Regions from separate parts of the Homo sapiens genome. Here region 2 is linked to region 1. The links come from fine-mapping of genetic effects on plasma protein levels. A gene starts in region 1. The other region holds a variant in brackets. All regions are shown on one strand. Distances are between the middles of the regions.

The links. PIP is the chance, under the fine-mapping model, that this variant and not a neighbour inherited with it causes the effect. Protein levels are from antibody-based Olink assays in UK Biobank. Linkage for the fine-mapping came from a reference panel and not from the study's own genotypes, which makes the PIPs less certain.
Region 2: its variant is fine-mapped to the plasma level of the FCRL2 protein (UK Biobank, PIP above 0.99).

What each region holds. Positions count from the first base shown.
Region 1 is chr1:157,774,350-157,779,793 of GRCh38, reverse strand. FCRL2 (Fc receptor like 2) reads left to right here and starts at 2,662. Exons shown (of 12, transcript NM_030764.4): 1 at 2,662-2,751; 2 at 3,999-4,019. The coding sequence starts at 2,721.
Region 2 is chr1:157,732,090-157,737,089 of GRCh38, reverse strand. No RefSeq gene overlaps it. Among named protein-coding and RNA genes, the nearest start is that of FCRL3, 34 kb to the right of the region's middle. The variant T/C (reference allele first, on the strand shown) is at 2,637.

The DNA.
Region 1 (5,444 bases):
CGCTTCCAGGATATGCCTATTCACTTGTAAATTACTGCCGTCTGTCAAATACAGAGTAGCACCCACATGAAACATGTTAGCCATCTTAGAGGATTTGTTGCCACCTCTGTGGCCCACACACCTCATTACTGCTGCTTTCCACCTGCACCTTTTATACCAACTGTGAATTTTACCTCATATCATTTGGTAACACCTTAAGAAATATTGATTCTTAACTGAAGAGGCCACATTTCCATAGAGGGTATATAGAAATCAGTGAAGGGATATGGATTATTTTGAAAAATCTCCTTGATGTCTATGAAAAACTTGTACCTACCATCAATTTACCATCAACTTTTTCATGATCCTATTTGTACTCCTTTCCTTAATTCCCTCCCATCCACAAAATTTCTATAGCTTCCAGGTTGGTCAGAATGGGAAGGAATTATAGGCCACCTAGAAACCCATTCAGTAGGCAAGATTTGATGATCAGTGACTAGCTTTGGTCCTGGGAAAGAGTAACTTACACTTTCAAACACATACAAACCGTTTGCCTATGCAGAAAGTTAAAGTAGTATTGTTTTCAACACTTTAAGATGAGAGAGGCCATAAAACCTAGTTTCTTATAATGAATCTTTAAAAAGTACGTAAATAGCATATGTTTATTGTAAGAATACTAGAATACACAGATAAGCAAAATAAGGAAAATAAAAATCAGCTTTAATTAGATTTTTTGGATATAATTACAGTAACTCTGTGGTGCGAATTGTCTCAGACACTTTTTATTGGAGAGCAGGGGATAATGTGCAGCAGATAAAGTGCACTCTGCAGCCACTTTTTTCTTTTCTTTTCTTTTCTTTTTTTTTTTTGAGACGGAGTCTTGCTCTGTCACCCAAGCTGGAGTGCAGTGGCACGATCTCGGCTCACTGCAAGCTCTGCCTCCCGGGTTTGTACCATTCTCCTGCCTCAGCCTCCCAAACAGCTGGGACTACAGGCACCTGCCACCACGCCCGGCTAATTTTTTGTATTTTTAGTTGAGATGGGGTTTCACCGTGTTAGCCAGGATGGTCTTGATCTCCTGACCTCGTGATCCGCCCGCCTCAGCCTCCCAAAGTGCTGAGATTACAGGCGTGAGCCACCGCACCCAGCCCACTTTTTTCTTAATCATATATCCTAGACATCTTATCTTGCTATTAAATATTATTCCACAGAATTATTTTAATGGCTGTTTGGTTTTCCACAGCATTTGACACATAACTTATTTTTAACACACATCTCTCCTTGTGATATATTTTTAGTATTTTCTTTTTACATTATTATAAGCAAGGCTTTAATGACCATCACATATAAATATTAGCCTTTCTCAAAGTAAAACTATGATAATAGTGAGAATAAAATGTTAAGTATCCAATTGTTAAAAATTCAATGTTAAGTATTCAGGTAAATGTTAAGTACCTGAACAGGTAACATTGAGTCTATGAATATTTTCAGTCAGTCCCTCATTTATAAGCACCTGTGATTTTTTGGTTTAGAGTTTCATCCTGCATAAGGTTCACTGATGAGACAACATCTACTGGGACTACATCTAATCAAAGTGAGCATGATAATAGGTGTTCACATAACACGCGCTTTGCTTTGTGTGAGATAACTGTATTAGGATCAGCCTGGGGTACAAAAAGCAATGCAGATTAGAAATAGGCAATGTTGTGATTACAGATTAGAAAGATGGCAATGTTTTCAGCAATATAGTGCAAGTGTTTTGAAGTTTAGTAAAATCTCATTCTAGAAAGTCATCGAATGACTACGAAAAATTTTACTTAAGAAATATGAGCTATTGAAACAATGGCCTTATTATTTTATGAACCTTGAGAAGCAATATATCAAGATAATAGGGCACAATGTTTAAGAGCCAGACTGTGACACTGGGCTGCCTGGGTTTGAATCCCAGATCTGTTACTACTAGAAATTGATTAAGCTGATCTTGGTCATTTTACTGGCTGCTATCATCTGAATGTTTGTGTCCTGGCAAAATTCTTATGTTGATACTTAATCCTCAATGCAATAGTAATAAAAGGTACCCACCTTTTATTACATGACCTTTTAGGGGTCATGAGTGTGGAACTCTTATGAAAAGGATTAGTCTCCTTGTAAAAGAGGCTTGAGGGAGCTTGTTTGCTCCTTCCATCATGTGAAGACACATAGAGGACACCATCTATGAGAAACAGGCCCTCATCAGACACTGAATCTACTGGTGCCTTGATCTTAAACTTCCCAGCCTCTTGAACTATGAGTGATAAATTTATGTTGTTTATAAATTTCTCAGTCTAAGGTATTCTTTATAGCAGCCCCAATGGACTAAGACACTTACCTTTACTAGTGCCTCAATTTCCTTATTCATGTGAAAGGGGATAGTGCCAATTCAGAAACTTGCTGAAGGTAATAAATAACTCTGTAAGCATGAGGCACTTAGAACTGTGTCTGACTCATTGCAACCCATATGTAAATGCTAGGTATCATAATGAGGGTCAAGTTACAAAATTTCTCTGGCATTGAGAGGATCAGCTATAATTGTTTTAGCCCTTCCAGGACAAAGATAATGGTTAAACATAGTGGCACTATTCTACTTCCTTTTTTGCTAATTATACAAAACCTATTCTGAAAACCACATTTCATCGCCTGCTCAGAGTCTCCAGTTGGTGACCAAGAGTACATCTCTTTTCAAATAGCTGGATTAGGTCCTCATGCTGCTGTGGTCATTGCTGGTCATCTTTGGTGAGTTCAATAATTTGACTGAGAAGTGAGGTGGCAGCTGAATGAGGTCTACTGCTCCCAAAAGGTTGGAGGTTTTATTGGAGCCCAGGGACTGGTGGGGATGCTCAGGTCCTGCCTGCAGCTTGGGCTTCAAAGGCAGATGCAAAGAAGTAGGCTGAGGACAGTGAATTTGCAGCACATCCATTAAGCATTAAGCACAATGCTTAATGTTCAAGGTGGACCACTTTTCCATTTGCTGGTCATGAATTGCTATTTTGATATCTTAGATCTCATTGAGTAATATAATGTTCTCATAGTAAAATGTTCATAATATTAGCATTTAGCAATGCCCTTCTCCTCCATGAACACCGATTATTCAATTGTTATCTATAAGATTTGGGTTCAGCAGATGCATTGAGACCCTTTGCTAATATTCCTCTGTTTAATCGTGGACAATGAGGGAGATGACAGCTGCTGCTAGAAAATAAGATTCCTGGGTGAGTGCAGTGGCTCATACCTGTAATCCTAGCACTTTGGGAGTCCAAGGCTGGTGGATCACTTGAGGTCAGAGTTCGAGACCACCCCGGCCAACATGGTGAAACCTCATCTCTACTAAAAATACAAAAATTAGCCAGGCGTGGTGGTGGGCACCTGTAATTCCAGCTACTCGGGAAGCTGAGGCAGGAGAATTGCTTGAACCCGGGAGGTGGAGGTTGTGGTGAGCCAAGATCGCACCATTGTACTCCAGCCTGGGTGAGAGAGTAAATAAGATCCCTTTCTCTATGCTGTGTAGGCACTAAATAAATATTTGTTATTGGAATACAAAGGGCTCTAACGTGAAATATGGCCATAGGAAAGAGACTGATTTGTTGATTTCTTGGAACTCTCACAATGTATGTTTCCTGATGAGCCCTTTGTGATCGTGTTGTCATGTCTATCTACCACTTGAAAAGTCAGAGTGTGAGATAGAGTGGTGGGGATGGTGGAAGGAAAATGAAATCAAGGAGAGTCACTAAATATCCAACATGGGTATTCTCGACAATCCCTTTAGTCAAGCATTGGGTTTGCAACTTGCCTTTTGACTACAATGAATGACAGTTAGATGTGTGCTCGAGGGAGATTGAATTGTTAGTAATAAGAGATTAGGGAAATAGAAAAGAAAGGGAAAATGGAAAGAAGTTTTTGAGCAATTTACCAGAGTAATATAAATTTATAAATTATGAGGGCAAATGCTGTGTGCTAATCTCTGGCTTTTGATCTCCTCACAGATGCAGTCACTGAACAGGCAGGTGAGTCCTCCTTGTCTTTGTTGTTCTTGGTCTCTGGCATATCAGTCACCCCACTACCCCAGGATTCTATAGAGGTGGCTCTGGAAAGCCTGTGAAGATGTCCTAATATTACTGCCCTCTAGGCTGACATGTTCTGAGGTCACGCAGCCTGTTTCCAACACCACTTGCATGTCTGGGTGACCAGGTACCACCTAGCCTTCTCAAGACCCCACATGCTTGCCTCTTCCTTAAAAGCCTGGCTTTAAGAAGGGCAATAACATGCAGATTGAAGAAAAGAACAATTTGGAGAGAATTGTTTTCCTGCCCATAGGACTGTAATGCCTCTTTATTGTCTGGCTGAATGCTGAATGTTTTTACAGCTCTGAAAACAGCTATTTATAGAGGAATGTGTCAGAACTACAAACTTCTGCAGGGTCAGAATAAACATGTGTCCTCATTGCTTCTCTAGCTCTAGCTCAGGAATCAGCAAGCTTTTCCTGTAAAAGGCAAGAGAGTAAATAGGCTAAGCTTTTCAGGTGTGTGCCGTAACTACTCAATGCCATTGCTGTGGTAGCAGGAAAACAACCATAGACCATATGTAAACGAATGAGGATGGCTGTGTTCCAATAACATTTTATTTACCAAAACAGTGTTGGCCAGCTCACAGGCCATAATTTGCCAACCCGTGCTCTAGATTTAGTATTTAGTTTTGATTTTTTAAAAATGCATGTATTACTGTTCTAATCATAAAGAGTGAAATAAAGCTAATTTTATTTCACTCTTTCTGAGTTAAATCTGTGCTCAGTGAAGGAAGTCAATGGGAAAAATATTTTATTCTATATACAGAATCTTCACATGAGCCAAGACAAAATCTAAAGAAAGGGAGACTTGTTCCCTTGCCCATTGAATGCTGGCTACCAAGTGGAAGGGGCTCTTTGGGCTCTAAGGAACAGTGTGGGAAAAGCAGATCCTGCTGTCACCTTGAATGGAACAAGAGTGTCCAGGGAGACATTCAGGGGTCCTACCTGGAACTTGCTCAGGAGCAAGTCTGGTCTCTTGCATTCATTCTGTCCCACATAAGGTCCAGGAGTCCCACCCTGTGATACCCATCACTCCACTGTCTGTCTGGATGGAAATTAGAGGAAACCTCGATCAATATTCAGGAGGTTTCTGACCATTAGTGGAATCATGCCAAGACAGCAGGCTCCCTGAAGTGAATCACCTACGACCATTCAGAGAACAGGGCAACAGCCACTTCATTCTCTTTCTTTTCCTTTAGCAAGAGTTTCTCAGAAAACTGAGATGTTCTTCAGAAGTTTGAGATCTTTTCTTTTTAAAAAGAGTAAGAGAGAACTTAGTTCAGCATGATGTACTGGAAAGAGCAGGACTTATATAGCCAGAAAGACCAAATTGAAATCATGGCTTTGCTATATACCTGCTATGTAG
Region 2 (5,000 bases), 42 kb after region 1:
TTGACATTCTTCACAGAACTAGAAAAAAATATATTTGAAAATTCACATGGAACCAAAAAAAAAAGAAAAGAGCCCAAATAGTCAAGGCAATTCTAAGCAAAAAGAACAAACCTGGAGGCATCACACGACCCAATTTCAAGCTATGCTACAGGGCTACAGTAACCAAAACAGCATGGTACTCGTACAGACACATGGAGCAATGGAACAGAATAGAGAACCCAGAAATAAGATCACACAGCTACAACTATCTGATCTTCAACAAAATTGACAAAACAAGGGGGAAGCATTCTCTATTTAATAAATGGTGCTAGGATAACTGGCTAGCCATATGCAGAAAATTAAAACTCCTTCCTTACACCATATACAAAAATTAACTCGAGATGGATTAAAGACTTAAATGTAAAACCCAAAACTATAAAAACCTCGGAAGACAACCTAGGCAATACCATTCTGGACAAAGGAATGAGGAAAGATTTCATGACAGAGACACCAAAAGCAATTGCAACAAAAGCAAAAATTGATGAATGAGATGTAATTAAACTAAAAACTTCTGCACAGCAAAAGAAACTATCAACAGAGTAAAGAGACAAATACATAATGGGAGAAAATTTTTGCAAACTGAATATGACAAAGATCTAATATCCAGCATCTATAAGGAGCTTAAACAAATTTACAAGAAAAGAACAAACAAACAACTCTATTAAAAAGTGGGCAAAGGACATGAACAGACAGTTCTCAAAAGAAAACATACATGCAGCCAACAATCATATGATAAAAAGCTCAACATCACTGATCATTAAAGAAATGCAAAACAAAACCACAGTGAGATACCATCTCACACCAGTCAGAATGGCTAATATTAGAAAGTTAAAAAAAATAACAGATGTGGCCAGGCACGGGGACTCACGCCTGTGATCTTAGCACTTTGGGAGGCTGAGGTGGGCGGATCATGAGGTCAGGAGTTTGAGATCAGCCTGGCCAACATGGTGAGACCCAGGCTCTACTAAAGATACAAAAAATTAGCTGGGCAGGAGTGGTGGCGAGCACCTGTAATCCCATCTACTTGGGAGACAGAGGCAGGAGAATCACTTGAACCCGGGAGATGGAGGTTGCGGTGAGCTGAAGTCAAGCCATTGCACTCCAGCCTGGGTGACGTGGCGAGACTCCGTCTCAAAAAAATAAAAATAAAAATAAATAAATAAATAACAGATGCTGGTGAAGTTACGAAGAAAAAGGAATGCTTATACACTGTTGGCGGAAGTGTAAATTAGTTCAACCATTGTAGAAGATGATGTGGCAATTCCTCAAAGACCTAAAAACAGAAATACCACTATCTAGCCAAGGGTATATAAATTGTTCTATTATAAAGACACATACATGCATATGTTCATTGCAGCACTATTCACAATAGCAAAGACATGGAATCAACCTAAATGCCCATCAATAGTAGACCGGATAAAGAAAATGTGGTGCATATGTACCATGGAATACTATGTGGCCATATAAAAGGAGATCATGTCCTTTGCAGGAACATGAATGGAGCTGGAGGCCATTATTCTTCACAAACTAACACAGGAACAGAAAACCAAAAACTGCATGTTCTTACTTATAAGTGGGAGCTAAATAATGAGAACACATGGACACATAGAGAGGAACAACACACATTGGGGCCTATCAGAGGGTGGAAAGTGAGAAGAGGGAGAGGATCAGAAAAAAACGATGGGTACTAGGCTTAATGCCTGAGTGATGAAATAACCTATACAACAAACCCCCACGACACAAGTTTACCTACATAACAAACCTGTACAGTTACCCCTGAACTTAAAAGTCAAATAACAAAAAAGAAAATGTGGTACATATAACCATAGAATACTACATGGCCATAAAAGAGAATGAAATCATGTCCTCCACAGCAACATGAATGGAGCTGGAGGTCATAACTTTAAGCAAATTAGTGCAGGAACAGAAAACCAAATATCACATGTTCTTAGTTATAAGTGGGAGCTAAACATTGAGTATATATGGACAAAAACATAGCAACAACAGACACTATGCGCTACTAGAGCAGGGAGAGAGGGAGGGGAGCGTGGGTCAAAAAACTACCTATTGGGTATTATGCTCATTACCAGGGTACAATATACCCATGTAACAAACCTGCGTATGTACTCCCTGTATCTAAAATAAAATTTGAAATTTAAAAAAAGAAAAGAGTTAAAGATACATTGAATTATCTGAAGATTTCTTCAAATACCAATTAAATCTGCAAGGACAATTAGTGTGATGTATATTATTTCCTGAAAAGTGTTCTTAATTAAAGCTTTGAGAACATTAAAAAAAGTTATGTTTATACAATACTGTAGTCTATTAAGTGTGCAATAGAATTAAGTCTATAAAAGCAATGTACTTATCTTAACTAAAAAATACTTAATTGCCTAAGGAATGCTAATGATTATATAAGCCTGAAGTGAGTTGTAATCTGTTTTCTGATGGGGAGGTCTTGCCTCAGTGTTGATGGCTGCTGACTGGTCAGAGTAGTGGTTGCTGAAGGCTAAAGTGGCTTTGGTAATTTCTTAAAATAGCAATGACATTTGCTGCATTGACTGACTCTTCCTGTTACAAAAGACTTCTCTGTAGCA[T/C]GTGATGCTGTTTGAAAGCATTTTTCCCACAACAGAACTTCTTTCAAAATTGAAGTCAATCCTCTCAAACCTTGCCGCTGCTTTATCAACTATGTTTATGGGATATTCAAAATGCTTCATTTTCATTTCAACATTGTTTACATCTTCACTAGGAGAAGATTCCAGCTCAAGAAACCATGTTCTTTGCTCATCCATAAGAAGCAACTCCTCATTCATTCACATTTTATCATGAGATTGCAGCGATTCTGTCATATCTCAGGCTTCACTTCCAATTCTAGTTCTCTTGCTGTTTCTACCACATCTTCAGTTACTTCCTTCACTGGAGTTTTGAACCCCTCTAAGTCATCCATGAGAGTTGGAATCATCTTCTTCCAAACTTTTGTTTAATGTTGATATTCAGACTTCCTCCCACAAGTCATGAATGTTCTTAATAACATCAAGAATGGTGAATCCTTTCCAGAACATTTTCAATTTATTTTGCCTAGATCCATAGGAGAAATCATTAAGAGAGTAATAGTCTTGCAACATGTATTTCTTAACTTGAAAATCTAACTTACCCCTTGATCCATGGGCTGCAGAATGAATGTTATATTAGCAGGCATGAAAACAACATTAATCTCCTTGTGTATCTCCATCAGAGCCTTGGGTGACCACGTACATTGCCAAGGAGCAGTAATATTTTGAAAGAAATCTTTTATTCTGAGCAGTAAGTCTCAACAGTGGGCTTAAAATATTCAGTAGCTATGTTGTAAACAGATGTGCTATTATGCAGACTTTCTGGCTCCATTTGTAGAACACGAGAAGATTAGACTTAGTGTAACTCTTAAGGGCCTTAGGATTTTCAGAATAGTAAATGAGCATTGGCTTCAACTTAAAGTCACCAGTTGCATTTGTACCTAACAAGAGAGTCAACCTGTCCTTTGATTCTTTGAAGCCAGACATTGACTTCTCTTCTCTAACTGTGAAAATTCTAAATGGCATCTTTTTCCAGGATCAGGCTGTTTCACTACATTGAAAATCTGTTGTTTAGTGTAACCACCTTTATTTTAGCTACTTCTGGATAACTTGCTGCAGCTTCGACACAGCACTTGCTGCTTCACCTTGTATTTTTTATGTTATTGAGACGACTTCTTTCCCTAAACTTTATGAACCAACATTTCTTAGCTTTAAATTTTTCTTCCACAGCTTCCTCACCTCTCTCAGCCTTTATAGAATTGAAAAGAGTTAAAGGCCTCACTCTGTATTAAGCTTTGGCTTTTAAGGGAATGTTGTGGCTGATTTGATCTTCTATCCAGACCACTAAAACTGTCTTCATATCAGCAATGAGGCTGTATTGCTTTCTTATTATGCGTGTGTTCACTGCAGTAGAATATTTAATTTCCTTCAATAACTTTTCCTTTGCATTCACAACTTGGCTAACTGGCACCAGAGGCCTAGCTTTTGGCCCATCTCAGCTGTTGACATGCCTTCTTTGCTAAGCTTAGTCAGTTCCAGATTTTGACTTAAAGTGAAAGACATGTGACTCCTCCTTTCACTTGAACACTTAAAGGGCATTGTAACGATATTAATTAGACTAGTTTCAATATTTTTTGTCTCAGGGAATAGAGAGGCCCAAGGAGAAAGAGAGAAACAGGGGAAAGGCCAGTCTGTGGAGCAGCCAGAAAACACACAACGTTTGTCAGTTATGTTCACCATCTTATGTGGGTATGGTTTTGTGGAGCCCCAAAACAATTACAATAGATCATTAATTACAGATAATCATAACATATATAATAATAATGAAAAAGTCTGAAATATTATGAGAATTACCAAAATGTGACACAGAGATACAAAGTGAGCACATGCTGTGGGAAAAATCGCACAAGCGGACTTTCTGAATGCAGGGTTGCCACAAACCTTCAATGTTTAAGAAACACAGTATTTGCAAAGCACAATAAAACAAGATACACTGGTATATAAATTTAGGTTGAAACATTCTAAATGCTAACTTAAAAATAAAAGTCCATGAACCAAGAGGCTTGAAAGGAGTTCACCTAGACAACCTCCTAGTGTATTCCTCCTAGCCAATCATGCATGAGCCATTGGTTCAAGAGATCCAAAATGAACTTCATAGCAGCATCTGGTACCACCCTAGAAATGGGGAACTACTCTTTTATTTATTTATTTATTTATTTATTTATTTATTTATTTATTTATTTATTTATTTATTGAGATAGAGTCTTACTCCATTATCCAGGCTGCAGTACAGTAGCACAATCACAGCTTACTGCCGCCTTGACCTCCTGGACCCAAGTGATCCTCCCACTTCAGCCTCCCAAGTAGTTGGGACCACAGGTTTGTGCCACTACACCCAGCTAATTTTTT